Linked DNA regions of Homo sapiens. The protein of the gene in region 4 interacts with the protein of the main gene of each other region in a pairwise test. Each region holds a gene or a part of one and is shown on either strand. Other genes may lie near its edges.

Region 1 (7,348 bases), on a different chromosome or scaffold from region 4:
GCTGGGACTACAGGCACATGCCGCCACACCCAGCTAGTTTTTGTATTCTTAATAGAGACGAGGTTTCACCATGTTGGCCAGGATGGTCTCGATCTCTTGACCTCATGATCCGCCCACCTCGGCCTCCCAAAGCGCTGGGATTACAGGCGAGAGCCACTGCACCCGGCCACAATAGCATTTCTTAGATTACACTGAGAGGATGCGGACAGCTCTTATATATTAAATAGTAGATACTTTACAACCATGAACTCAAATCTCCACCATAACTCTGGGGGAAGACACTGTTCTCTCTACTTTCTATATGAAAGAGGACAAGTGATTTGCCTTGGCTCTTCCCTCTGAATCAGGCTGACTTCCTGAGTTCTTTGAGGTTCAAGATTATTCTGAAGCCCCGGGGTCCCTGCCTGACATGTCTCAGACCCACCCTGGCATATCTTTGGAGTCTACTTATCTTTCTGCGTGGCCTCTTAGTGCTGGTGAGGGCTGCCTGGGCCCTTTCTGACAGGCTGGCTCCAATAGGGACTGCTTAGACCTGTTTACACAGTTACACTTTTGGCTAACCTGGATCTGGGGGACTTGCTACCATGATGGACACATGTTCCTTGGTGAGCAGGTCTGTGCAAACCTACCCTCCAAGGCCAAGGGAGCTGAGAGCGCCAGTTTCTCAGAAAGAAACATTTATTAGGGACTTCTGAACAGAACCATGTCTCAGGCAGAAATGAGATGGTGGTCTCTACACCCAACCTCCAGAAAGTATTCTTTACTTGTTGTTTTGCAGACGACAATGCTTGTACAGAAACTATTCTTTTCTTTTTTTTCTTTTGAGACAGTCTTACTCCATCACCCAGGCTGGAGTGCAGTGACACAATCTCAGTTCACTGCAACCTCTGCCTCCCAGGTTCAAGTGATTCTTGTGCCTCAGCCTCCCGAGTAGCTGGAATTAGAGACATGCGCCCCCAGGCCCGGCTAATTTTTGTATTTTTAGTAGAGATGGGGTTTTGCCATGTTGGCCGGGCTGGTCTCGAACTTTTGATGTCAAGTGATCTACCCGCCATGTGGACTCCCAAAGTGCTGGGATTACAGGGGTGAGTTACCACACCCGGCCAAAAGTATTGTTTATACAGCAAGCTTTTAGGTTAAAACATGCAGCTGGTGACATCTCAGGCTTTCGTGTGAAACTTGTGACCACTGGGGAAGTTAAATAATCATCTTTTTGAGGGGTTATCTATGCTACCGGCATTGTTTAAAGACCTTGCTGCAGAATACCTTGGTGTGCACGGGTCAAACCTCAGCCATTATGGCTTCAAGATGGTGCCACGCTTGTCTTGCAGCAGGCTGTTTTCCTACAGCACACTAACAAAGCTCAGTCTAAATTGACCTGTTGACCAGTAGAAGCACATTAGTAGGAAAACAGAAAATTCAAATTAAGTCTGTTAGGTTAGTTGGTAGTATTGTATTGCTGTTAATTTCCTGGTTTAGATAGTTGTATGTTGGTTATATAAGATGACAACACTAGGCCAAGCAGGTGGCTTACTCCTGTAATCCCAGCACTTTGGGAAGCCGAGGCAGGCGGATTACTTGAGTTCGAGTTTGAGACCAGCCTGGCCAAACACGGTGAAACCCCATCTCTACCAAAAATATAAAAAAGTAGCCGGGTGTGGTGGCATGCACCTGTAATCCCAGCTACTCGGGAGGCTGAGGCAGGAGAATCACTTGAACCCGCGAGGCGGAGGTTGCAGTGAGCCAAAATCATGCCACTGCACTCCAGCCTGGACAAGAAAGCGAGACTCCGTCTCCAAAAAAAAAAAAAAAAAAAAAAGGATGGTAACATTAGAGGAAGCCAAGTGAATGAATTTTATGTTATGTTATGTTAAGTCCAAGATAATTTCAGGCCGAGTGCAGTGGCTCATGCCTATAATCCCAGAGCTTTAGAAGGCCGAGGTAGGAGGATCACTTGAGGCCAGGAGTTTGAGATCAGCCTGGGCAACAAAGTGAGACCTCACCTCTAAAGTAATTAATTAATTAATTAAATATATTCATTCATTCATTCAAAATAAGAACTTAAGCACTTAAAATGAAATAAAATGGAAAGAATATTAAAAAAGAAAAATGCTGGCCTGTTGTGTGGCCATCCTAAGATACCTGAGGTCTCACAGACACTCTAGTTGTGTTAACACCAGGGCCAGCACTGGACATTTGGATAACATGTCGGTGGGGGGGTCAAGCCCAGTAAAGTCTCATGTGATACATCAGCATCTGTGTGCAGAACAACACTCACTTCTCTGGTCCCCACAGCAAATGTGTCTTCTAAGCAGCAAGATGTGCCTTTGGGCTGACGGACCTGGGTTTGCAGCCCAGATTTGCTACTCACTAGCTGCTGAGCCTCAGTTTCCCATCTGTAAAATGGGAACAGCAGCCACATCTCCCTCTAAAAGTGGTTATGAGGACTCAGTGAGCTGGTGGATGTAAGGCCCTAGTTCGCACTGTACATGTGATTGGCAGCCTGTGGTCAGTAGGCACTGTTCCTTCCTTGCTTGGTGGGTTTGGTGGATGTCTCTGTTCTCTAGAGGATGCCAGGGGCCAGTGAGGCAGCCAGGAGAGCATCTGCCCTGGCCACTCATCAGGGTCCTCTCGCCAGCTTTCTCCCACGTGGTGGAGAACACGGCCTTCTTCGGCGATGTGGTGCTGCGCTTCCCGAGGATTGTGCACTATTACTTTGACCACAACTCCAACTGGAACCTCCTCATCCGCTGGGGTATCAGTTTCTGCAACCAGACAGGCGTCTTCAACCAGGGGCCCCACTCGCCCATCCTCAGCCTGGTAAGGACTGGGGTGGAGGTGGCCCGGGAGCCCTCTGTCGGGTAGTGGACTAGGATCCTCACATCTGCCTTCAGTTGGGCCTGAACGTCAGTGCTTGGTTACATTTTCTTTGTGGAGCTTCAGGGTATCTTGGGCCACAGAGGCCCCATTTCAAGGGATTCTGTGCTGACCCAGTTCCCATGGGATCATCATGTGGCCCACATCTGCCCAAGTCAGGAGTCTGGGTCCCAGCATGGAAGGAATGACTCTCTGGTGAGCAGGACTCAGGAGAAGGCAGATGATGACTAGTGTTTCTTCATCTGCAGATGGCCCAGGAGCTGGGGATCAGTGAGAAAGACTCCAACTTCCAGAACCCATTTAAAATCGACCGCACAGAGGTGAGCTGCCAGGGCCTATGCCTGTGTCTGCTTTGCCTCTGCTGGGCCATAGGACACCGAGGCCTGCAGGGGCTGGGGACCTTGGGTGGCTTTGGACTTGGAGCCAGGCAGCCTGGGCCTGGGTCCAGAAGATATCACTGACTCATTGGAGCCTGTGGGCAAGTCATTGCTCCCCTCTTAGCCTCAGGCTCCCTGTCTGTTCACAGCATGTGAACTCCAGTTATGGGGGGTAGTTAGGAGGCTATGAACAAACCCATCCCAGCACAAAATAGGCATCCCACTTCAGGTGGATATCAGGGTAGCTAGGGAGATCAGGCCATGCTCTTCCCTGCCTTTGAACCTCTGAGCACCAACTGGGCTTCCATCCCGCACTCCTGTACATGCTCTCATTCCAGGGGTTCCAGGGGGCTGAGGTGGGCTTTGAGAGCTGGAGACCAAGTTTGGGATAAAAGATGAGGACAGGCCGGGCACGGTGGCTCACATCTGTAATTCCAGCACTTTGGGAGGCCGAGGCGGGTGGATCACCTGAGGTCAGGAGTTCGAGACTAGCCTGGCCAATATGGTGAAACTCTGTCTTTACTAAAAATACAAAAAACTGGCCAGGCGTGGTGGTGCATGCCTGTAATCCTAGCTATTCAGGAGACTGAGGCAGGAGAATCGCTTGAACCCGGAAAGTGGAGGTTGCAGTGAGCTGAGATCGTGCCATTGCACTCCAGCCTGGGCAACATGAGTGAAACTCCGTATCAAAAAAAAAAAAGGGGGGACAGATACGATAGATGGAGGAAGGGATTGGAAGTGACAGGGCTAGGAGGGGCAGGAAGGAAGGGCTGTGGTGGCTGGAGGACTGGACTTGTCAAACCCTGGTGTCGGGAGGGGTGTTGGGTGTCTCAAGGGTCTAGGATTTAATTCTGCCTCCAGGCCAACAAGCTAGCCTGCTACTGTTTCATGGACACTGATAGGTCAGAGACATTGGACTGTATTACAGCAAAGGCACTAGCTAGACTGTTGGCCTGGTTGTGTTGGTTCATCTTGTTCCCTAACTCCCACGGAGGTGACACAGAGGGGCCAGGTGGGCGCTGTGCATGCAGGGGGTGTGCATCATAGCTGAGAACTGCCAAGCTGGAGAAATTCATGATTTTTATAGTGAACCGCAGCAAATGTGCTCTTTGGGAAGAGACATCACCACACCGTTCGAGGTTGCTCTCTGCAAACACAATCCTAAGACATGGCCCAGGTAAAGAGTGGTTAGGGCTTTGTATCTTTGGTGTGCCCTGCAAGAATATGCAGGGATGCTCAGGGCCATGATGGATTGCCACCCCAACAGTCTGCCCCAAGCCCAAGCCCTCCATGGCTTGGTTTAACTCAAATTTTCTTTTCTTTTCTTTTTTTTTTTTTTTTTTTGAGATGTAGTCTCGTTCTGTCGCCCAGGCTGGAGTACAGTGGCGCGATCTCGGCTCACTGCAAGTTCTGCCTCCTGGGTTCACGCCATTCTCCTGCCTCAGCCTCCCCAGTAGCTGGGACTACAGGCGCCCGCCACCACACCTGGCTAATTTTTTGTATTTTTAGTAGAGACGGGGTTTCACCATGTTAGCCAGGATGGTCTTGATCTCCTGACCGCGTGATCCACCCGCCTCGGCCTCCCAAAGTGCTTGGATTACAAGCGTGAGCCACCGCACCCGGCCTAACTCAAATTTTCACACGAATGTGCTATTCAGTCTGATTGATCTGACTGATAGAGGCTAGGACCAAATCTGTCAATTAGTCTCATACTTCATTTAATTAAGATTACTATCAACTATATTCTGAATAGCAGGGTAAGGCCAACCTACATTATTATTATTTTTTTTATAGACAGGGTCTTGCTCTGTCACCCAAGCTCTGTCACCCACCTAGCTTACTGTAACCTTGAACTCCTGGGCTCAAACAGACCTCCCACCTCAGCCTCCTGAGTAGCTGGGACGACAGGCCTGTGCGACACCATTCCTGGCTAATTAATTTATTATTTTTTTCAGAGACAGGTTCTTGCTGTGCTGCCTAGGGTGATCTCAAACTCCTGGGCTCAAGCCATCTTCCTGTCTCAGCCTCCCAAAGTGTTGGGATTATAGGTGTGAGTCACTGTGTCTGGCCCCTAACCTGCAATATTGAACAGGGTCCTGGACTCAACCAGCTGTGAAGGTCCTGGAGGACCAGTAAGTCTCATTTTGGATAATCAGGATATTGTCTAAGACCAATCTGTTATCCACGACCACCCACATAAGAGAGTTTAGATTGACCTGCCAATCTTTGATGTTACTGCCAATAAGTACAGGGGGCAATAGATGGACCCAAGCAACCCTCATGCCCCCATAAGGAGACATTCCATGACCCATTCTCTCCCACATGTTACGCTTGATTTGAGTCACCAGAACAATGTTTAGTTGAGCCTGAGGGCAGTGTCACTGTGGAGCTTCAGCCTCAGTTGCCTACATGGTATAATCCAAGGCTACTCAGACATCAGGAAAAGCAGATGAATTTGTATCTGTCAGGTTGAAACAAAATTGTGCTGGCTGGTGTGTCTGCACAAGGTCACTGTTGAGAACTACCTTTGATGGCATTAGACACAGCAGAATAGCTCAGTACTGACGTGTCCATGTGAGTTTTCCTATCATGTGGATGGAAATGAGACACCCAACAGTTGGCCATATTGACAGCTGCAGCTGCCACTGGGCTTGGGCAGACCCTAGGATTGTTTTGCCAGGTGGCAGTGATGGATCTAAGGGATAAAGAGAACATTAATTGTTCCCTGCACTTTCTGGGATCTAAGGTATATCCTCCCCAGGTGGCAGGATTATTGCTATAAAATCCATGTGTCCTTGGGAGACCGAGGTGGGCGGATCATGAGGTCAGGAAAATCAAGACTATCCTGGCCAACATGGTGAAACCCCGTCTCTACTAAAAATACAAAAATTATCCGGGTGTGGTGGCGCATGCCTGGAGTCCTGGCTACTCAGGAGGCTGAGGCAGGAGAATTGCTTGAACCCAGGAGGCGGAGACTGCAGTGAGCCAAGATCGCACCACTGCACTCCAGCCTGGCGACTGAGTGAGACTGTCTCACAAAAACAAAACAAAACAAAAAGCATATGTCCTATGCCAGCATCTATAGTTTCACTTTTTCTCCAGTTGTTGCCTACTATCACTTAGATCTTTCATTCAGAAATGTCAGGTATGAATGGGACCAGGGCATTTTTACAGATGTATAGAGACCTGTTATATCTCTTCTCTTTACCCACATGGGCCACTGCAGGGAAATCAGCAAGCAGGATACTCAGCCAAGTGGTCACAATCCTAACAATCTCAGGCTGTACCATTCCAACCAGAGACTCAGGTAGTTGAACCAGAAATATACAGTCCTCTGTTTTGTGCCACTCCTTGGTAGTGGGTATGTTACCATGCCAAGTAGAATGATATGTTTAGGTGGCAGTGGCAGTGATCTGGATGAAGTAGGCTTGATCAGCAGTTTGACTCCATTTGGTCTTTTCAGAGATTGAGCTTTATGATGGGCATCTAAACGAGTGAGCCAGGCTGTCTAGTTTGTCACCACAATTTGTTTCCATAGTCTGTGGCCCTAAAGAGGGGTGAGGGGTAGGTATCGCCAGGCATGGTGGCTCACACCTGTAATCCCAGCACTTAGGGACCGAGGCAGGCGGATTGCCTGAGGTCAGAAATTTGAGACCATCCTGGCCAACATGGTGAAACCCTGTCTCTACTAAAAATACAAAAATTAGCCGGGCGAGGTGACGCATGCCTGTAGTCCCAGCTACTCGGGAGGCTGAGGCAGGAGAATCGCTTGAACCCGGGAGGCAGAGGTTGCAGTGAGGTGAGATTGCACCACTGCACTCCAGCCTGGGCAACAGAGCAAGACTCTGTCTTAAATAAATAAATAAATAAATAAATAAATAAATAAATAAAAAGAGAGGGGTAGGTATCTTTGATCTGCCAGTTTGTAATCTCCAGATGACCAGGACACTGACAATAGTCAGTAAGAATATAACATGCATGGCTGTTAGGAAGGAGTGTCATCCAAGCAAGGGTGATACCTTTTAATTCAGGCCATTGTCTGACTGGCCTTTATGGCAGTTAATCAGCCAGCATTGTTACTGGGGCTGGCTGAC
Region 2 (7,348 bases), on a different chromosome or scaffold from region 4:
GGGAAGCTTTAATAAGGAACAAATCATGTTATTTTCTATCTTAGCCCAATTCTCTCCAACTGAAAAGAATGTGACTTCTGAATAAGACACACGGCATATGAGTGTGCAGCTGGAAAGAGTCAACGCTGACCCACCCGCCCTGTGGGAGGCACTTCACTATGAAGCCATTTCCAGCATTCAAAGCCACCCCACTCCTCAACAGGTGTGACGCCCCGATGCCTGGACACCATGGACTCCTCTCCTAGATGCTTGACACGGTCCGGCGCGGCTAAACTGACAGAGCCTGCCAGACAGTCATAAAATTATAATTTCTTAAAAATACTTTGTAGCTACTTCAAAATTAATACTAATGCGAAAGAAAGTTAGTATTTCCCTTAGAAGTAAACACAAAACATTCACTGCCTCATTAATTCAAAAGCCATCATTCGCGGGGCTTCCCAGAATCGGTGTGCCAGCTCTGCTGCCGCCCCGGAGCCCCGGCTGGAGCAGCTATGGCCTCTTCTTCCGCAGCAGCTGCCCGTTGCCTTCTGGCCTGCTCTTGGCTTCTGGCTGTGCGAAGTTCCAGTCCACCGGATTGAGAAGCTGCTGAGTCTTCTTATGGGTCCAATATGGATTAATGATTAGCGTAAGCAGAGCCAGTCCGACAAGGAACAGTGTCAAATGAGGCAGATACAGGCTGCTGACCAGGCCGTCCCAGTGCCAGAAACACACCCACCACATGTGGTAGGTTAGAACCATGCGGCAGTGAAACATGTGAATCATCAGCCACTGGTTGAGCTTCCAAAACAGAGACTCGGACCAGCCCGCCTGCATGGAGAGAAGACAAATGCACAAGTCAATGCGAAACTGCCAAAATTCATTCTTCACATCACAAAAAGGTATTTGCTACCTTACTTACCAAACAAAACAAATTCATTTCAAAGCAAAAGAATTTCCTCCCCAGGGCTCTGCTCTCATTGGGACTTCATTCTGAAAGGAGGCCACCAGCTCTGTGGGCGCACCTGGGCCAGCAGGGCTGACCCTTGCCCGCTCATGCTGTTTTCCTGCTCCTCTTGCTCTTTGGCTTCTGCTCCCTAAAGCTATGATAAATTCAACCTTTCTTTCAGTATCCCTTCAATCTTTGTTTTATCTTGAATTTTCTCATATTAAGTAAATAAACAATACTTATTTGGCAAAACCAGACACAGGTATATCAAGCTCCCATACCTAGACCCTGGGAAGTGATGAGGTCATGGGGGTAAGGCCCCATGATGAGATTAGTGTCATAAGAAGAGAAAGAGACCAGAGCCTTCCCCTCCTCCATGCTAGGACACAGCCAGAAGGTGGCCATGTAAACCAGGAAGTGGGTCTTCACCAGACATGAATCTGCTGGTGCCTTGATCTCAGACTTGCAGCCTCCAAAACTGTGAGAAAGGAATTTCTGCTATTCCAGCTGCCTAGTCTATGGCAGTCTGCTGTGGCAGCCTGAGCTGACTAATACAGTATACCTCCCCGGCAAAATATTCTAACTTGGGCCAGGCACGGTGGCTCACGCCTATAATCCCAGCACTTTGGGAGGCCGAAGTGGGTAGATCACTTGAAGTCAGAAGTTTGAGACCAGCCTGGCCAACATGGCGAAGCCCCATTTCTAATAAAAATACAAAAAAATTAGCCAGGCATGGTGGCGCACCATGTAATCCCAGCTAATTTGGGAAGCTGAGTCATGAGAATCATTTGAACCTGGGAGGCAGAGACTGCACTGAGCTGAGATCGTGCCACTGCAATCTAGTCTGGAGAAAGAGCAAGACTGTCTCAAAAAAATAAAATAAAATAAAAAATTCTAACACGTTCTTCTGGTGTTTTTGAATATTTAAAGCCCCAGGTATATTAGCTGTTATAGACAGTCCCCTACTCACAATGGTTTGACTTACAATTGTTTGATTTTATGGTGCAAAGATGATACACACTCAGTAGAAACTGTACTTCAAGTACCCACACAACCATTGTTTCAACTTTCAGTAGAGCATTCACTGAATTACATGAGCTGTTCAGCATTCTGTTGTAAAACAGGCTTTGTGCTATATGATTTTGCTCAAACGTAGGCTGATCCAAGTCTTCTGGGCATGTTAAAGGCAGGCCAGGCTATATACCATGATGTTCGGGAGGCTGCACATTTCTGACACAATATTTTTAACTTATGGTGGGCTTATTGGGATGTAACCCCATCCTGAGTCAAAGAGCATCTATTCTAAGTCTGGACTGAAAAAATTAATGTGAGGACAATTAGAAGAGAAAGGCCAGCGGAATGGAGTAACCCAGCCTGCCTCATACAACTGTCACGGGAGTCCTTCCCAGGTCTCAGAGGGGACCTCAGGGCTCTCGCATGTGCATCACGGCACCCTCATGCACACACACGCCTTCAGAGACCGCCAGTGCGGCTTTCCACAAACATACCAAGCACTTAGTTCACCCCAACCCCAGGTGCAAATGAAACACTCCCACCTGTGGTTGGGGCCACCTCAAGGTGGGCCAGGACCACATGCTTCACCGCACTCAGCATTGCTGAGGCACAGTGAACACTCAGGAAGAAGAGCAGAGGAAGCAGGATCCAAAACAAGCCTGGAGCCTCCAAACTGAATGGGACAGGGGAGAAACCCACAGACCAGAAGAACCTATGGCTGTCAGTTCCGGATGGTTAAGTGACATGGGATTGAAATGAAATGTGAAGAGTTAATACTATAACTTATTTCTTACTTGTGAAATTATAGAGTTAGGCTACAAGTTCTTGGAGGTTTTTGATATGTCCAAAGCAAAAGTCACAAATATAGCTGGTTCTCAGACCCTGGGGTGACTGCAGATCCTGGTTTGCCTGGGGCAGTCCCTGACATCCTTGTCTGGGTGGTAAACAGTATAGTCACTCTGACAACTGGCCACAACCACCAGGTCCATAAGTGGTGAAGGACAATGCTGGACTTTGGCACAGGCAAGTTTTCGATCTCACACCTCCCTCAGACCCATAGCGGCAGTACCAGGTGGGCCCACACCCAGGTGAGGCTGGACAACTGCACCTACAGCAGTGCCCAGGGCTCAGCGCCTTTATTTCAGTCAACAACGCACAGTGTATAGACAGTGGTTCCACACAAGATTATAATGGAGCTGAACAATTCCTATCATTTACTATTTTACTATACTATACTTTTTATCATTATCTTGGAGTGTACTCCTTCTCTGATGAAAATAAAGTTAACTATAAACAGCCCCAGGCAGGTCTTTCAGGAGGGTCCAGAAGAAGGCACTGTCACCATAGGAGGTAGCAGCCCCATGTCTGTTACTGCCCCTGAAGTCTCTCCAGTGGGACAAGGTGTGGAGGTGGAAGACAGTGATATGGATGATCCTGACCCTGTGCAGGGCTGGATGAATGTGTATTTGCATCTTAGATTTCAACAATTTAAAAAAAAGTTTCGAAAATTAAGAAAAGCTTACAGAATAAGGGTATAAAGAATATATATATATACACACAATGTATTTGTGTTTTAAGCTAAGTGTTATTACAAAAGAGTGGAAAAGTTTAAAAAATTAAAAATTTATAAAGTAAAAATGTTACAGTAAGTTAAGGTTACTTTATGATTAAAGAAATTTTTTTATATAAATTTAGCATTGCTTAAGTACACAGAGTTCATAAAGTCTATAGGAGAGTACAGTGACGTTCTAGGCCCTCACACTCACCACTCATTGTGACTCTCGCAGAGCAGCTTCCAGTCCTGCAAGCTCCATTCCCAGTGAACGCCCTGCACAGGTGTGCCATTTTTCATCTTTAACATGGTATTTTTACTATACCTTTCTATGTTTAGGTATGTTTAGATACACAAATATTTACAGTTGTGTTACACTTGCCTACAGTATTCAGTACAGCCATATGCTGTACAGGTATGCAGCCTGGGAACAATGGGCTTTGTCGCATAGAGCCGAGTGTGGAGTTGGCTTAGACATGTAGAAAGGTACTCTATGACGGCCACTCGATGACAAAATAGCCTAAGGACACATTTCTCAGAACACAGCCCGTCGTTAAGCAACGTATGACTGTACATGGAACGGTATCACACGCTGTGTACTCTTTTGCGTCCGGGTAACGTCTCTCACCGTGTCTGTGTAAACCATCCAGACTGCTGCCCACCCTTCTGCTGCGTGGACAAACTCAGCTCACAAGCCCTTTCCACTGATGATGGGACTTCAGTAGGACTCAGTCTGAGGCCAAATGAACAGCGTGGCTAAGACAATCCAAGTACCCCTGTTCGAGTGAACATGTGGGTGCACTGCAGTCAGGCACAGACCTATGCATGGAGCCGCAAGGACACCAGAAGTCTCACACGCTGTTTTCCTTTGCTAGTTATCAAACTGAAGACACTCAAGCATTTATCAAGTAAACAAAGAGCTGACAAAAACCAAAGGAAAGACAATGCTCCTTCTGCCACGCAATGGACTGCAGCATCGCTACACAAACGTGCGCCCCTCACAGAGTCCAGATTCCAGAACCTTCTGTCATCACGTGTGTGTGTGTACTGGAGCAAGGCCACACACACATCTGCCCGCACAGATTTCACCTTCCAGAACCTTCTATCATCATGTGTGTATATTGGAGCAGGGCCACATGCATATCCAACCCTCACAGATTTCACCTTCCAGAACCTTCTGTTATCACATGTGTGTGTACAGGAGCGGGGCCACATGCATACCCAACCCTCACAGAGTTCACCTTCCAGAACCTTCTGTCATCACATGTGTACTGGAGCATTACCACACATACAGCTGCCCCTCACAGATTCCAGCTTCCAGAACCTTCTCTGTGAACAGAAGCACAGTCACATGCAAGTATCCCCCTGACAGATTCCAGCTTCCAAAATCTTTTGTCATCATTTGTGTGCCGGGGCACTGCCACGCATGTGTGCCCCTCACAGATTCCAGCTTCCAGAATCTTCTGTCATCATGTGTGTGGAGCACCACCACCCACGTGTGCCCCTCACAGACTCAGCTTGCAGAATCTTCTATCGTGTGTGCTGGAGCACCACCACACACGTGTGCCCCTCACAGATTCAGCTTCCAGAATCTTCTGTCGTGTGTGCCGCACCACATGCATATGTGCCTCCCACAGATTCCCACTTACGGAAGACTGAGAATCGTCTTTGTTATGACCCGGCACCTGGCACAGGGCCTGCAAGAGTGCTCATTGCTCCTCAAGAGAGCGTACAGTATCAACAGGAGTGAAAAGAGTGTGTGTCTGAAGACAAAACACTGAAGAGTCGATGTTCTGAACATCAGAATCCTCTACAGTAGCTGGAAGGCCCCACACAGTGATGAACTGTACAGTACACTGTGCACTCAGCCCCAGACTCTCGCGAGCTCAGTCTTTATTCACTCACCATTCCCTCACAATTCACAAAAAGTTCTCCTCCACCATTTTCCTCACTTACTGAAAGTAGTCATCTTAAATTACCAATAGTAATATCAGAATGCAATCACTACCTTAAGTTTAGAAAACTCAAAGCTTGAGAACCGAAGAGTTCTTTGGTTTTACTAAGGCACTAAAATTTTTGTAGTCAAAGTCACCAAAGGCTTTGAGAAGAGTAGCAAAATCTACAGGAACAAAATCTGTGACATAACACATGCAAAGCTCTGGAGCCCGGCAGTTACATCTATACTTAAATATACAGTCACCCTCAGTATCCTTGGGGGACTGGTTCCTGGGCTCCCTGCAGATACCCAAAGCCACGGATGCTCAAGTCCCTTATATAAAATGGCTTTGTATGTGCATATAACCTAAGCACACTGTCCCTTACTCCTTAAATCATCTGTAGATTACTTATAATACCTAATACAATGTAAATGCTATATAAAATTGTTACATTTTATTGGTATTTATTTGTTATATTTTTTATTGTTATATTATTTTAAATTTTTCCCAAATATTTTTGATCCACAGTTGGTTGAATCCAGACACAGAACCCATGGATACAGAAGGTCGACTGTATACATACATATATATACACACACATGTATATATACAAAATATATAAAAACTGACAGCGGGTTGTGTTTTTGTTTGAGATAGGGTCTCACTCTTGCCCAGGCTGGAGTGCAGTGGCGTAATCACAGCTCACTGTAACCTTGAACTCCCAGGCGATCCTCCCACCTTAGCCTCCCAATTGGCTGGTACTACAGACGTGTGCCACTATGACCAGTTAATGTTTGTATTTTTTGTGGAGACGAGGTTTTGCCATGTTGCTGGTCTTGAGCTCCCGGGCTCAAGTGATCTGCCTGCCTTGGCCTCCCAAAGTGCTGGGATTACAGGTGTGAGCCACCGCACTTGGCCTGACAGTGCTTTTATATCACCTCATTTGTATTATGAACTAGTGAGTCTGTGGATAAATAGTAGAACCAAATCTAAGACAGAAATACGAAGAATAAGCCACTGTGCTTGACTTAGACCCCCATCCTAAATTGATGGTAATATTTTGTCTTTACATCCTTTAGTTCTGATCAAATCAGACCTTGATGGGGGAGAAATGTTGAATCCTCATGCCCTACTACTATGCAAGAATCTATCAGCTTTAAAAGAATTTCAAAGAATTTCAACATTTTAGACATAGTGTTTTCTTACTGCATTTATTAGTATTTCAACTAGAGCAAAATAGAACTATGTAGACATACTGGCCCTGAGCTATATTAATTTAGGTTATAATTTTCTCTTATTAGGGTCTGTTGGCTTTATACAGTTAACATGAGCAGGGTTAGAAGTAAATACTTAAATAACCCTTTCTCCATTCTACACAAACAGCACCCTAAAAGCTTTAGAGAATGTGCAAACTTCAAAATAAAATCTCGCTGAGTCTGTCCTCCTGGAGGCTGGGCTCCACCACCACACCAGGGGAGGGAGAACTGCTGGAGACGCTGTCCCCACACCTGGCTCCAGGAGAAGCACAGATAAAACCCTGGAGAAATCCAACACTGCTTTCCCCTGAGGACTGGAGAGACAGAAAGACTCACGTCTTTCTTGTTGTTTTTAAAGAACTTGTAATAAAAATAAAATACAAGATAACTATTAATCTATTTCTCAAAATACACTAATGACCTCAAGCACACCATCTTGTGGGATGTATTAATAATTTAGTCACTATTTACCACTTGGGACATTGATGTGGTATTGATGTTTAGGGCATCGATGTGAGTGAGCGCCTCTGCTTTCCTTTCAAGAACTTTATTTTCTGCCACAGCCGAGTGACTCCTGAAGTCCGGTGTTTCCAGGTGAGAGGAGTAGGCAATGCGGAGCACAGGCCAAGGCCTCTTCCTCCAGCACACACCTCTCCACTCCACA
Region 3 (7,348 bases), on a different chromosome or scaffold from region 4:
GTTCAGGAGGCATTTGGTGCGGGGTTCTGAGTCCTTGCGTTTACTTTAGGAGAAGCAAGCGGAACAGTCCAGTTAGTAGTGGCACATGTTCATGTGTGAACACAATTCAGGCCCCAGGAATGCATGGTAAGAAAAGGACCATGGACCCGTATGACTAGGGTTTCCAGGACCAAGTACAGCTACGTGTACAAGCTGTGGGGGCAGCCGGGCATCCCCTCTCCTGTGGGCACACTATCAGCCCATTCCCTGTCCTCTTCCTCTTGCCTGAAGCCTCCACGGGGGAGGGCTGGTTCTTACCTGTCGGGTTTGCTGTTCCCGAAAGCAGACACAGGTGAGAAGGGGGAAAAAAAGAAGAAAGGTGAGGGTGTGCCGGCCATCAAGGGCTTGTTCTGTGACTCTCAGTGCCTTCCTTAACCTCTGTGAGCTTTGGTCTCCTCTGGAAAATGGTGCTCATATTTCCTGTTTGTCCCCCTGCCTATCGACACCACAAGGAGGCTTATCTCAGCCCTGGGATGTGCCCCATGGGGCCACTACAATTGCTATCCTCATTGAACTGGACACAGGCAGCCTCTACCCCAAATCTTGCTGAGTTGAAGATAGGGGTTAAGAGGAGAAGCCAAGCCACTGGCCTGCTTTGAGCCCTAGCTCTGCCATTCCCATGCTGTGTGACCTTGATCAAGTGGCTTAACCTCTCTGAACTTCGGTTTCCCCATGTGTACAACAGAGACCTTTAGTGATGATTCTCTGAGACAACTCCTCCCTCCTTTTCCAGGAAGCCCTCCCTGCTGTCAAGTCAAGTCGGGGAGGACATGGGGCTTACTTCTTGTAGAGCAGGATAGCAATGACAATGCAGATTATGAAGACCACGGCCAGCACAGGCCCGATCACCCAGATAAGCCCCTCCTCGCCATCCACGATGGGCTGGGGGTCCGGGTTATCCAGCTGGAAGGGGTCTGAGAAGGGACTGGCTGCAAAGGTCTGCAGGGAAAGGAGGGGGGTCTCCATCAGTGTCCACCCTCCTTGTAGTGGCCAGATGGGTCTTTCTCAAACATGAACCTACGTTTCTCCCCCGCTCTAGATCCTCCTATATTCCTAGAACCTTGACCCTGGTGGCCTATGTGACCTGGTCCCTGCCAATCTTTGCTCTCCCCATTCCCTTCTCTGCTCCAGCCACTCTCCTTTCTGTACCTCCAGACCTTTGCACATGCAAATCCTGGGATGCTTTTTCTTTGTTGAACTCCTACTCACCCCTCAACGCCCCAGCTCCAAGGTCTCTTCCTCTAAGAAACCTTCGTTTCAGGATCCCTCCGCTCCCAAGTCTTCCCCTCTGCCCAGCTCTGACCACAGGGAGCTGCCTGTGACTGACCACAGAGGTCAGGGCCCTGGGGAATGGGGTCTGCCTCATTCAGAGGTGTGTCTGGATGTGGGCGGACACCATTCAGGACTTACAGGCTCGCTCTTCTGAAGCACGGCAAGCACGAAGAGGACATAGCGGTGGCCGGGCTCCAGGCCCCGGTTATCGAAGCCGCCATACTGCTTCTGGTCGCCGGGATGGAACGTGGGTGGCAGCACAGAGAAGCGAGCTGCAATATAGGGCCGGGGCACCTCCAGCTGACGCGAGTGCCGCAGGCTGCGCCTCTGTAGCCGTGAGATGTCCTGGATGAGCTGCGGGAACAGAGTCATGGGTGGCTCAGAGCTCAGCTGGGAGCAACAGAGCACGTGAAAACTGGAATGCATCTGGGCCCTGCGGGTTGGGCCCCAGGCCCTCACCTCTTCCAGATCCATGTCCTCTGGGCTACCCAGCGGGGTCAGGAATTGGCCTCCACGAGACTTGCGCAGTGGCACCATCACAATGAAATAGCTCCTGTAGGGAGATGGGAAAGAGTCAGAGGGGCTGTCGATAGGGATGACCAAGGGATGCTTCATGGGGGCAAACGGGGGAAGCCGTTTCTCTGAGTCTTCCCTTCTGTTCATACAATGAGCCTATTCCCCTATGCCCCATCCACAAACGCCACAGTTGCTGACTCAGGCCTCCAGGCCTTGGATGATGCTGTACTTTCTGCGTAGAAGGCTTACTTCATGTAATGCTCATTGTTAAACTCCTATACATCCTTCAAAGCTCCAGCTTCAATGCCCACATAACCTTGTAGCCCTTAAATCTTCTCTGCCTCTGAGGCAGAGTGCTCCTCTCCCCACTGGGGACTCTCAGCTTTGCCTCCCCACTAGTTGGGAAGCCCAGAACCAAATCCTTTCAGGGGCCCTAGTAATACCCAGTGGAGGGTCAGGCATATGGGGTATCAGGAAATGCTAGAAGAGCAGACACAGGACACATTTAGTGACAATGACCCATGAGAAGCATTGAATCTTGGATGACCCCATGAACTAGGGCTGATAGGGTCTGTGTTTCATAGGCAAGGAAATTGAGGCACAGAGAGGGCACGTGGCTTGCCCCAGCCATATAGTAGGCTGATGGGGGTGACAAGGAACCCGGAGCATGGGGGTGAGCATACTGGACAGGCACGGGGCTCTGGCCGTCAGGAAGATACACCATGATGAAGCCGTCAGCATCAGGCTTGGGGGCGACGCTGGGCTTGCCGTTGAGCAGGTTGAAGGCAGTCCAGGCGGTGACCGTCTGCTGGAGGCCGCCCAGGCTGCTGCCGCGATTGGTCAGCACAAAGTTGTAGAAGGTGTGGGGCTTGAGGTGCGTGATGAGCTTCTTGGTGGTACGGCCATCCACATCCAGTGTGAGCCCATTGTACTGGATCTGCGGACCAGGGCTAGCTCAGCAGGGCCTGGTGGGCTCATGCCCATGGACTGAGCCCCAGCTCCAGGATGAGTCCCCCACCCTGACTGAGCCCTGATCCCACTGAATCCTGCCCTAGGCAGAAATCTAACACTGACTGATCCCTGATCCCAGGCTGAGTCCCCAACTCTGACTGAGCCCCAACCTCACTGAACCCTGACCCCAGACTGTGCCTAAATTCCAGCTGAGTCCTGATCCTAGGTAGAAGCCCACTTTGACTGAGCCCTGATCCCATGCTGAATTCCCAGTCCCGACTGAGCCCCAATCCCACTGAACCCTGAACCCAGACTGATCCTGAATTCCAGCTGAGCGCTGACCCTAGGTGGAAACCCACCTCTGAGACCTGATCCTAGACTGATTCCTGATCTCAGACTGAACCTCAATCCCAGGCTGACCCCCGATCCCAGACTTGGCACCAACTCCAGACTAAACTCTGACCTCAGGCTAAGTACCAACTCTGAGTCCCAATCCTGATTATGCCTCAGTCCCAGCTAAGCCATGATCTAAGGCTGAGCCCCAACTCTGATTTCCAATATGGACTAAATCTTAATCCCAGACTGAACCTCAATCCCAGCTAAGCCACAATCCAAGGCTGAGCCCAACATTGATCCCCAATATTGACTGAACCTCAGTTCCAGCTGATCTCCAATCCTAGGCTGGGCCCCAAGTCTGATTCCCAGTATTGACTAAGCCTCAATCCTAGCTGAGACCCATCTCTGACTGAGCCCTGATCCCTCACTTCACACCAACTCCAAACTGAGCCTTAAGCCCTGCTGAACTACAACCCCTGACCCTGCCTGCCTGCCTGCCTGCTGGCTGGGCAGTCGCACCTTGTAGGGTGTGGGTGAGTTGTAGTTGTCAGGGAACTCCCAGCTGAGCAGAACTGATGTCTTCATGATCATTTTCACCTTGAAGTTCTTGGGCGAGACTGCCGGGGAGGCGGCCGAGCAGGGAGAGAGCAGAAGAGAGGCCCCATGAGTGCCTGGCACTGGGTGGCGTGAAGCGGGGTGGGGTGGGGCGGCCCAGGCGCTCCCTGTCGTCCGCTGTGCCCATGCCCACGGCCTTCCTGCCTGGCCCTGGCCCGGCCCTGCCCTGTCCTGTCCCAAGTCCCTGCTTCGGGAGACGGCACGGGTGCAGAGGCTGCAGAAAGAAGGTGGAGGAGGAGGAAGAGGGGGGAGGGGAGCAAGGGGAGGGGGCAGTGGTGGGGGGCGGTGGTGCCACCGAGGCACGTCCCACCTTTGCCAACGCCGGAGCCTCGGGGTCCGGACTTGCCTTGAGTGACCACGAGGAAGCAGAAAAGTGAGCACTTACCTGGGCAGGGGAGAGGGAGGGGGCTGGGGTGGGGGTGGGCGCAAGGCCCGGTCCGGCTCTGGTGCAGGGGTCGCCGCGCGCCTACCTTGGTCCCGCAGGAACGTCCGGTAGCGGACGGGGGGGCTGAAGGGGCCAGGGCCCCGGCGCGTGTGGGCTCGCACTTGGAGGTCATAGGCCGTGTCGGGCTTCAGGCCCTGCAGCGTGAGCGCGTTCTCCGCGCCCGGCTCAGCCGCTGCCGGCAGCTCAGTCTCTCGGGCAGGGCCCAGGGCACCGGCCTCCCGCACGGCCACCGTGTATTTGACGATGGCCCCGTTGCGCTCGGCGGGCACGGGTGGCAGCCAGCGGAGAAGGACGGTCCCGGCCGAGGCGTTGCCGGCCGCCTCCAGAATCTGCGGGTGGCCACGGGGCGTGTCCTCCGGGATGCTCAGGACCTCGGCTGCCTCCTCGCCCAGGCCGCCGCGGCTCCGGGCCGCAAGCCGGAACACATACGTGGCCCCCTTGTGCACGCCTGATGCCGTGTAGCGGTCCTCGGAGGGCGGGAACTCCAGGGTGGCCAGGGGCGTCGAGTCCTCACGGCCAAACTGCAGGCGGTAGCCCAGCACCTGGTCCTCCGCGGTGCCAGCCGGGGGCTCCCAGCGTGCCAGCAGGCTGCCCTCGGGGGTCTGCTGCACCGACAGGGTTGGGCGGCCCAGCACTGCGGGGATACGGGGCAGGTGTCAGGGTCCCAGCGCCATCCGCCAGCCCAGAGGCACAAGGTGGGGTTGTATTTTTAATTCTTTTCCTTCAATATAACATTTTTTTGAGTTGGGGGGGGTCTTACTCTGTTGCCCAGCCTGGAGTGCAATGGTGAGATCACGGCTCACTGCAGCCTCGAACTCCTGGGCTCAAGTGAGCTTCCTGCCTCGGCCTCCCAAAGTGCTAGGATTATAAGGCCACTGCACCCAGCTGCGGTTGTGATTTTTTTTTTTTTTTTTTTTGAGACAGAATCTTGCTCTGTTGCCCAGGCTGAAGTGCAGTAGCCCCATCTCGGCTCACTACAAGCTCTGCCTCCCGGGTTCAAGGGATTCTCCTGCCTCAGCCTCCCGAGCAGCTGGGATTACAGGTACACACCACCACGCCTGGGTAATTTTGTATTTTTAGTAGAGATGGGGTTTCGCCATATTGGCCAGGCTGGTCTTGAACTCCTGACCTCAGGTGATCCACCCGCCTCAGCCTCCCAAAGTGCTGGGATTACAGGTGTGAGCCACCGTGCCCAGCCTGGGGTTGTGATTTTTAAAAGTGGATCTCAAGGCTGGGTGTGGTGGCTCACATCTGTAAGTAATCCCAGCACTTTGGGAGGCTGAGATGGGCAGATCATTTCAGGTCAGGAGTTCGAGACCAGCCTGGCCAACATGGTGAAACCCTGTCTCTACTAAAAATACAAAAATGAGCCGGGGGTGGTGGTGCACGCCTGTAATCCCAGCTACTCAGGAGGCTGTGGCAGGAAAATCACTTGAACCCAGGAGGCAGAGGTTGCAGGGAGCCAAGATCGTGCCACTGCACTCCAGCCCGGGCAACAGAGCAAGACTCCGTCTTAAAAATAAAAGTAGGTCTCAAGAAAGCCTCACTTAAGAAGCAAAGACTTGAAAGAAGAAAGAGAGGGAACCACGAGAAGATCTGGGGGAATCGTGCTCCAGGAAGAGGGAACGGCCCATGCAAAGGTGTAGAGCCGGCACTGGGCTAGGGGCGCATAAAGCACAGCAAGGAAGTGAGGACTCAGAGAACCCCTCCTCCTTCCATTAATAAGGCAACCATCTCCTGCCTTGTTGATTTGGCCCTTGCTCAATGCAGGCACCTGACCAATACCCATGGGACATAAAGAAATCCAAAATCCGCCCCTGCTCTTTGTTTCGCACAGCCTGGGTAGTAATCAATGTGCCGAGAGAGGTTCTGGGATCAGGCAAAGAAGGGGGAAAGCTGGGCTGTATACATGAAAATGGACTTCTCTACTGCAGGACTTATCAGGGCCTTGAATGGACTGCTATGAATACCCAGGGTGGTGGGGAGAGCAGCGTATGCAGTGGTTTCTGCTTAGCAAACACAGCTCTAATACAATGTCCCTGAGAGAGGAGGGAAGTGCCCTGCTGGCTAGAAGAAGGGAGGGAGAGATCACAGGAGGCTGCTTGGAGGAGGTGGCGTTAGAGCTGGATGCTGGAGGACGCAGACAAGGTGCGTGAAGGGAATAGTGTGGACAAGGGCAGGGGCTGTGTCCAGCTGGGAGGCCTGAAAGGTGGGGTACACAGTGGTGTGGCTACAAGGGTCCCCGAGGAGAGGGTGGGTGTGGGGACTGGGATGAAGGCCACAGAAGTCAGTCGATTGTTCCTGAAACACCCGAGCTTGTTCCGCCCACCACCACCACCACCACGCCCCACCCCCCAAGTCTTTTTCTGGGCTGTGCCCTCCGCCCGGTGTACCCTCCCCTTACATCTTCACGGCAGCCTCTTTTTCTTAATTCAGCTCCATTTTGGCTGGAAAAAAAAGCCAGCCCCTTGGGGACGATGGAAGGGACAATGGAGGGGCTAGAAGGGGAAACTGAGGCAGGGCCACCAAGAGAAAGGTGGCTTCCTGGTGCAGTAGGGGAAGACAGGTGCACCACCCTGAAATAACAACCTAGCCGGGGCGACCAGAGCCTGGATGGGGGAAGCACAGGAGACTAGGGGGCCCAGAAGGATCAAGATTATGGGATGAGGCAATCAGGGAAGGCTTTCCAGGGCCAGGTGTACCTTGAGCTGAGACCTAAAGGCAGAAGAGGAGCCAGCCAGCAGGGGAAGGGGTATCCTGGCAGAGGGAACAGCCCAAGTAAAGGTTGAGAGGGCAAAGGGGTCAGAGGTGGCTGTTAACTGTTTCTGTCTGGTGGGAGCCGGGGGGACAGGAAGTGAGTGACAAAGGAGGAGGCAGGGGCGGGGGGGGCCAAGCTGGGCCCTGGACACCCACCTGAGCAGCCCTCACACCTTTGTCTCACTGTTCCAGCTGCCTGGTGCACCCTCTGCCTGCCCTTGTGAGCTCAAGGACTCTGGAGTCACGCTCTGGTGCCAGTGGGGGCAAAGGGGCTGTTGGTGGGTGGGAGGAGGGCGGGTTGCATACCTGCTCCCTTGGTCACAACCACCTTGGGTTTGCTGCGAGCGCCATCGCCCTTCATGGTGTAGGCGGCTACCGTGATGGAGTACGCGGTCTCAGGCTGCAAGTTTGTGATGA
Region 4 (7,348 bases):
CATCCCCGATCTGCTCCAGCCCCATCCTCTAACGGGGAGAGGGCCAGAGCTGGCCTCTTTTTTGAAGTCTGCGGTCTGGGGTGGAGAAGGCAGTAACATAGCTCCTATCTGGCAGTGTGGTGGGACCAGCCCTCACCTTCCGCATCCGGCACAATGAGCAGAACCTGTCTTTGGCTGATGTGACCCAACAAGCAGGTAAATATCTCTGCGACCTCAATCCCAGGCTTGGCCCCAGCCCCACTCCTAAGAGGATATATCCAGGCCTGTTGCTGATGCCCCCTTGAAATGTTCCCAGCCCACATGGGCCCTGCCTGCTGCTTGGCAGAGCAAGACAGAGGATGGAGACCACATGGGGCTGGAGCAAGCCTGACCTTTGTCCTCCCTGCAGGGCTGGTGAAGTCTGAACTGGAAGCACAGACAGGGCTCCAAATCTTGCAGACAGGAGTGGGACAGGTATGCGCTAACTGGAGAATCAGTCCAAGTCCCCAGAGGGCTGATGTTGTCCGCAAGAGCTGGAGGCAAACCAGAGGGGAGAACTGGAGCCGAAACGTGTCCGTAGGCACGGCTGGCTGGAGGCGGCCTTCGCCCAAGCAGCCCCTCCCCGCAGTTCTCTTTCTCACCAGCAGATGGCGTAGGTGTCCCCTCCCTGCAGGACCAGCCCTCTGTAGTAAAAAGGCCTGAGAACTAGTTGAGCCGCCCTTAGTCTGCTGGAGCGCAGTCTCCAAATTCCAAGGGAACACCTTGCACAGAAAGGACATTATACTCAAAATATGTTTTGTTTGTTTGTCTGAGACAGAGTTTCACTCTTGCTGTCCAGGCTGGAGTGCAGTGGCTCGATCTCGGCTCACTGCAACCTCCACCTGCCAGGTTCAAGCGATTCTCCTGCCTCAGCCTCCCAAGTAGCTGGGATTACAGGTGCCTGCCACCACACCCGGCTAAATTTTTTTTTGTATTTTTAGTAGAGATGGGGTTTCACCATGTTGGCCAGGCTGGTCTCGAACTCCCGATCTCAGGTGATCCGCCAACCTTTGGCCCCCCAAAGTGCTGAGATTACAGGTGTGAGCCACCACGCCCGGCCTATACTCAAAATACCTTTGTCTTCTGCATCCAACACTGATGCCTCACGTTCTACAATTCAATTCCTAGGGTTCTCTGTCCGTTTTTAAATGCAAACACTCCTGGTGGGGGCCTCTGGCACTGCACTGTGGTTGAGTTGATCCGATGGGGATTGAGAAGGAGAATCTGAGCCCATCTGGCTGTACCACCATACCCCTAATCTCCCAGCTTTGCCCCAGGAGATGTCCTAACAGGGGGTGTGGCATGGGACCGGGGTGAGGAGCAGCTCTGAAACCTCCCTATGCCACTGCCTCCCTTGATTCTAGCCTTGTTCCCACAGAGGGAGGAGGCAGCTGCAGTCCTTCCCCAAACTGCGCACAGCACCTCACCCATGCGCTCAGTGCTGCTCACTCTGGTGGCCCTGGCAGGTGTGGCTGGGCTGCTGGTGGCTCTGGCTGTGGCTCTGTGTGTGCGGCAGCATGCGCGGCAGCAAGACAAGGAGCGCCTGGCAGCCCTGGGGCCTGAGGGGGCCCATGGTGACACTACCTTTGAGTACCAGGTGTGCAGCCCCAGAAGCTGATTGAGCAAAGGAAATGCAAGGGGCCTGGGAGTCTGGGTCTTGCGTGGACTAAGGGTCGGAACTGAATGGGGAGTGAGCCCTCATCCCTGGGAAGGTCCAGTGGAGGCTGGAGAAGCCCCAGTGGGAGGGAGTATGGTAGGGGCCTTTATGAACGCATGGGAATTGGGAGCATACAGTGCCTAAGGTTCTTCTTGGTGCTGTGCTTCTGGGGCTCTGGGATTCCACTCTGTCATGTCTGAGGTTGACATAAGCACCACCCAAGCAAAACAGCCCTGGAAAGGATCAGGGCCAGGCAGAAGACCATACCCCAGAGGAGCTGAGTTCCACTGAAAATCAGTCAAGGGCAAGCCTAGGAGCCCAGAGTTGAACCCAGGGCCCTGTTGAAAAGTTTCAGGGGACTCTTGGACCTCACCTGATTCTTCCTCCACAGGACCTGTGCCGCCAGCACATGGCCACGAAGTCCTTGTTCAACCGGGCAGAGGGTCCACCGGAGCCTTCACGGGTGAGCAGTGTGTCCTCCCAGTTCAGCGACGCAGCCCAGGCCAGCCCCAGCTCCCACAGCAGCACCCCGTCCTGGTGCGAGGAGCCGGCCCAAGCCAACATGGACATCTCCACGGGACACATGATTCTGGTCAGGACAGGGCCTGGGCCCAGAGTGGGTGAAGGAATGGGATGGTGAGAGAGGCCAGGCTGGCTGTGTGGGCCAGAGCCAGACCGTGGTGCCCCCACAGGCATACATGGAGGATCACCTGCGGAACCGGGACCGCCTTGCCAAGGAGTGGCAGGCCCTCTGTGCCTACCAAGCAGAGCCAAACACCTGTGCCACCGCGCAGGGGGAGGGCAACATCAAAAAGAACCGGCATCCTGACTTCCTGCCCTGTGAGTGAACCCTGCTGGCCCACCTGGCCCAGCCCTCTCTCTGCTGCGAGGTCTGGAGGGCTTGGGGTAAGGGGTTGGGCTTCTGGCTCAGGCTGAGTGGCAGAGGTCCCGCGATGCCAATGACCAGAGGGCCATCTGGGGTGGGGTGTCGGGTCTGTGCAGATGACCATGCCCGCATAAAACTGAAGGTGGAGAGCAGCCCTTCTCGGAGCGATTACATCAACGCCAGCCCCATTGTGAGTGGCCCTGACTCCAGCCCCCACCTCTGCCCCATCATTATCCTGGCCCTATGCACTCCATTTCCCCGTGGTCACCTGCCACCCCACCAACCCCCTGGAGTGGTGGGGCCTGATATCCTAGCAAGGGGGAACTGCCAGCCTTCTCAGACCCTGACCCACTTGCTCTGACCACGCCTGTCCATAGTGGCATTTCCCACACTGGCTCATGGTGTATCTTCCCTGCCTCCAGATTGAGCATGACCCTCGGATGCCAGCCTACATAGCCACGCAGGGCCCGCTGTCCCATACCATCGCAGACTTCTGGCAGGTGGGCTCTTAAAGGGAGGGCTTCGCTGGGGTCCTTGTGGCCACGAGGTCCCAGGGAGGTTAGAGTGGAGCTCAACTGGGTCTCTGTCCCTAGATGGTGTGGGAGAGCGGCTGCACCGTCATCGTCATGCTGACCCCGCTGGTGGAGGATGGTGTCAAGCAGTGTGACCGCTACTGGCCAGATGAGGGTGCCTCCCTCTACCACGTATATGAGGTCAGCAGGGCCCCACAGCAAGGGGACAATGGATGTGGGAAGAGTAGATGATGGCCTTTTCGTAACGTTTTCTTCACCAAATGAGCACTCAACAGTCTTTTTAAAAAGGCTTTTATTGGCCCTGCTCATGATTCATACATATATGAATATATATAAACACATATATGCATACCCATATATTCACATATATACATGTGTGTGTCCTGTTTACAGAACATACATGTGTGTGTGTGTGTGTGTGTGTGTGTGTCCTGTCTAGAGTCAAAAAGCGTTCATAGAGACTTATGATAAAGGCACAGAGATCAAACTATAAAACCACCAAAACCGAGGTAAGAAGCTAACAGCTAAGTGTATATTAGACAGGGAAGATAAGGATACCCAAAGACTGAGATTAAGACCTACGTTAATTGAACCTAATTTAGCTCTGAGTTTCCTGGTGGCCAAAGCAAAGAAAGACATACCACCCGTTACATACGTTACTAATGTAAAAGAGAAACAAACTTTTTCATTAGGAGAGAGACTAGGTGGAGGGGTGGAGAAGGAGGGGGAACTGGGCAGAGGCCAAGCAGGGGAAAGAGAAATATTTCAGACAAATGGGAGAACGTGAGTCCCCACTAAGACAAAAAAACCTTAAGAACACAGCAGAAGCTTCTCATCACCAGATGAGCCTGAATAGTAATTTTTTCCCCACCAAATAAGCACATGACGGTTTTTTTAAAAAGCCTTTCATTGGTCCTGCTGGTGGTTAACGAAAAAAATCCAGTAAGAATACTACAGAATTTCATCCAAGTTTATGGCACGTGTAGCACCGATACTCTGGTAGACCCTGCGAGGAAGAGGGAGGAGAAACTCCGACCTCGAGAGGCTCACAATAGCTGTGTCTGGGTGGAAAAGCTACTAGTGGTCCTGAGCAGTAGATAAGTGACAGGCAGCCAGGGTTCCTGGGACCGCTGGAACTTAGAATTTGAACCGGCCTGGGAGGCCGGGCGGTGGTTGGAGAGACCGAGAAGGTCGCGAGGAGAGCGCGCGCAACGCGGGGACTGGGGCAGCCCGCGGCGCTCAGGCCTGGGCCCCTGCCGGGCAGGTGAACCTGGTGTCGGAGCACATCTGGTGCGAGGACTTTCTGGTGCGGAGCTTCTACCTGAAGAACGTGCAGACCCAGGAGACGCGCACGCTCACGCAGTTCCACTTCCTCAGCTGGCCGGCAGAGGGCACACCGGCCTCCACGCGGCCCCTGCTGGACTTCCGCAGGTGAGCGCGGGCGCCCCCGCCTGGAGGGACCGCATGGGCGGGGGCGGAGCCGGGGTCCGCCCGCCGCTCGGCCTGGAGCCCCGGGTCGGGCCTGGAGCCTCGGCCTCTGACTTCTGGCCGCCCGCTCCAGACCCCACGCTCCCACCCCTAAAAGCAGGCCTGAGGCTCCGGCTGTGCCCTTCCCCGAGCCTCCACCACCCGCGTGGGCCAGCTCCGCGCCGGCCGCTGCTGCTCTGCTCCCTCCCTCTCACGCTCCCGGGACTGGCTCCTTCTCCTCCACCTGCTTCCTCCAGAGGGCCCTCTGCTTTCTGTCTCCCCTCCCTCTCCAGGACCCCTGCTTCCTTTCTCCTTCCAGTTCCCTCCTGCCCCGCTGTCTCCAGGCCCTGCACTGCGCTGCCTTGCTGCCCCCTCCGTCTCTCACTCCCGCCTGCCCGTCTCCCCTCCTTCATCCCTCTCCGTCCCTCCTTCATCCCTCTCCGTCTCTTCGCCTCTTTTTTCTGTGTCTTTCATTCTTTTTCCTTTCCTCTTTCTTCCTCTTCTCTCTCCCCATCTCTCTCTCACTCTGTCTCTGCCTCACCCTTTCCCTCTCTCTCCATTTCTCCCTCTCCGCGCTTCTCTTCCTTTCTCTCTGCCCTCTCCCCTGTTTTTCTCCACCTCCTTCCCCTGTCTGCCAGTTTCTCTCTGCTGCTCTGTCCGTCTCTCCCTCTCCCTCCCGCTGCCTGTCTTTCCTCTCTCTGTCCTTCCCTCTCCCTTCTTCCCTCTTTCTCTCTCTCCCTCACAGCTGCCAGTGTCATTTTTGTGATCTGCAGCTAGTATTCTCACTCCAGTTGCATAGTCACAAAAGTGATCATTGGCAGGTGTGGCTGCTGCATGGACAGACAGGACATGTGGCCCGGGGACCACCCCGAGCTGGGAGCAAGGGGTACAGGGAAGAGGCAAAGACTGTCGAAAGGAGTGTGGGAGGATCTCTGGATTCTGGGGGGCTCAGTGGAGCAGGTGGGGACTAGACAGGGGCTACCTGAGGGACTTACCCTTTTCCAACACTGACACCAAGACAGGTCAGCCCTCCAGCGTCCCCTGCTTTTCCTAGCCCCAGACAGGTACTTGGGAAGCCCACTACCAAGGGCAGGGGCCCACCCACACTGCGCCCTTCTCCTGGTTCTCTGTCCCTTGCCAAGCTGGCCTGATGTCTCTAGGTACTGGACAGAGGAGCAGAGCTGGGGGTGGGGACATGGGTATAGTTTCTGAACCTCAGGACAGCAGTTTCTAACTGGGGTCCCTGAGGCCTGAGACACAGGCGTCTTGAAAGCAGTGCCAGGGTATCAGAGCTATTTCCTTTTTTCCATATTTAAAAAATCCTGGTAGAACTAGTGCATGGATCTGTTTTAAAGCTGCACAGATAAGCTAAAAGATTGCTTTAGGCTGGAATTATGTAAACTCAGTTGGCATTAGACATCCAGAACAAATAAACTGTTGCTTAAGAAATGCAGTTCGGGGCCGGGCGCGGTGGTTCACACCTGTAATCCCAGCACTTTGGGAGGCCGAGGTGGGTGGATCACTTGAGATCAGGAGTTCAAGACCAGACTGGCCAACATGGTCAAACCCTGTTCTGCCAAAAATACAAAAATTAGCCAGGCAGGGTGGCGAGCGCCTGTACTCCCAGCTACTCGGGAGGCTGAGGCAGGAGAATCTCTTAAACCTGGGAGGCAGCAGTTGCAGTGAGACGAGACCGTGCCACTGTACTGCCACTTGGGCAACAGAGCCAGACTCCCTCTCAAAATAAATAAATAAATAAATAAATAAATAAATGCAGTTTGGTCAAGCCCCCCTAGAAGGAAAACAAATTAATAAAAGAGACCCTAAGAAAGTGACCCTGAGTAAGTTCCTTGGCTTCCCTCCATTCCGCTACCTGTGAGATGGGGATGATTACACATACTTTAGAGCAGAGGTTCCCAACCTTTTTGGCACAAGGGACCGGTTTTGTGGAAGACAATTTTTCCACGGCTGGGAGAGGGGGTGGTTTGAGGATGAAACTGTTCCCCCTCAGATCATCAGGCATTAGATTCTCATAAGGAGCTCACAACCTAGATCCCTCACATGTGCAGGTCACGATAGGGTTCGCACTTCTGTGAGAATCTATTGCAATGGCTGATCTAACAGGAGGCGGAGCTCAGGTGGTAATGTTCGCTTGCCTCCTGCTATGCGGCTCGGTTCCCAACAGGCCATAGACTGACACTGGTCCATGGCCCAGGGATTGGGGACCCCTGCTTTAGAGGGCTGTTGCAAGATTTGATAAAGTATGTAAAATCTAGTGTAAGTGCCTGATACATAGCAAGGGCTCCGTTAATTCTAGATGCTGCCTATTATCATTATTAAATGAGCAAAAACAACTATTGTGATTACTCTTCTACCCTAGCCCTCTGACGTAACAGCCAATGAGCTAGAAAACCATGTGGACTCCTATGAAGCCATTCTAAGTCACCTGGTCCTATAGCTGAAGGACTGTGAAGTTCCAAACTTCAATCTGACAACCCCTAAGAAGGTCTTCCCTGGTTCTGGCTTGCAGGGATATCAGGAGTATGCAGGTGACTCCCAAAGCAGAAAGGTCATAAAGGACAAGGGCAGGTTAGATGGGTCCATTGAGAGACGGAGAAGCCCCCTGCTCCTCACTGAGTTGTGGTCAGGGGCAGTGGAGAAAGGTCTGAGGTCCAAGGGGACCCCAAGTCTGAATATAACGCAGCCACAGAATGCCTGTGCTGAAGTGAGACTGCTCCAGGGAGACAAGCAGTAGCACAATGTCCCGAGTTGAGGGGTTGGGGTTGT

What was found.
Region 1: the proteins of PTPRN (region 4) and CCDC134 interact in binary tests that used the Homo sapiens proteins (3 or more experiments, as listed by UniProt).
Region 2: the proteins of PTPRN (region 4) and CLN8 interact in a two-hybrid assay, tested with the Homo sapiens proteins (one study listed by BioGRID).
Region 3: the proteins of PTPRN (region 4) and PTPRS interact in binary tests that used the Homo sapiens proteins (3 or more experiments, as listed by UniProt).

The regions. Positions count from the first base shown.
Region 1 is NC_000022.11:41,810,626-41,817,973, forward strand, and holds part of CCDC134 (coiled-coil domain-containing protein 134 isoform 1 precursor), read left to right. Parts: intron 1-2,638; coding exon 2,639-2,820; intron 2,821-3,125; coding exon 3,126-3,197; intron 3,198-7,348. UniProt on the Homo sapiens protein: Molecular adapter required to prevent protein hyperglycosylation of HSP90B1: during translation, associates with nascent HSP90B1 and the STT3A catalytic component of the OST-A complex and tethers them to a specialized translocon that forms a microenvironment for HSP90B1 folding.
Region 2 is NC_000008.11:1,773,709-1,781,056, reverse strand, and holds part of CLN8 (protein CLN8), read right to left. Parts: exon of another isoform or gene 5,861-7,348; intron 808-5,860; coding exon 490-807; 3' UTR 1-489. UniProt on the Homo sapiens protein: Could play a role in cell proliferation during neuronal differentiation and in protection against cell death.
Region 3 is NC_000019.10:5,218,490-5,225,837, forward strand, and holds part of PTPRS (receptor-type tyrosine-protein phosphatase S isoform 1 precursor), read right to left. Parts: coding exon 7,238-7,348; intron 4,809-7,237; coding exon 4,200-4,808; intron 3,732-4,199; coding exon 3,634-3,731; intron 2,765-3,633; coding exon 2,511-2,764; intron 1,865-2,510; coding exon 1,771-1,864; intron 1,666-1,770; coding exon 1,450-1,665; intron 979-1,449; coding exon 821-978; intron 310-820; coding exon 298-309; intron 44-297; coding exon 1-43. UniProt on the Homo sapiens protein: Cell surface receptor that binds to glycosaminoglycans, including chondroitin sulfate proteoglycans and heparan sulfate proteoglycan.
Region 4 is NC_000002.12:219,292,152-219,299,499, reverse strand, and holds part of PTPRN (receptor-type tyrosine-protein phosphatase-like N isoform 1 precursor), read left to right. Parts: intron 1-115; coding exon 116-195; intron 196-388; coding exon 389-453; intron 454-1,396; coding exon 1,397-1,615; intron 1,616-2,066; coding exon 2,067-2,267; intron 2,268-2,367; coding exon 2,368-2,515; intron 2,516-2,677; coding exon 2,678-2,751; intron 2,752-2,983; coding exon 2,984-3,061; intron 3,062-3,154; coding exon 3,155-3,274; intron 3,275-4,358; coding exon 4,359-4,525; intron 4,526-5,299; exon of another isoform or gene 5,300-5,389; intron 5,390-7,348. UniProt on the Homo sapiens protein: Plays a role in vesicle-mediated secretory processes. Required for normal accumulation of secretory vesicles in hippocampus, pituitary and pancreatic islets.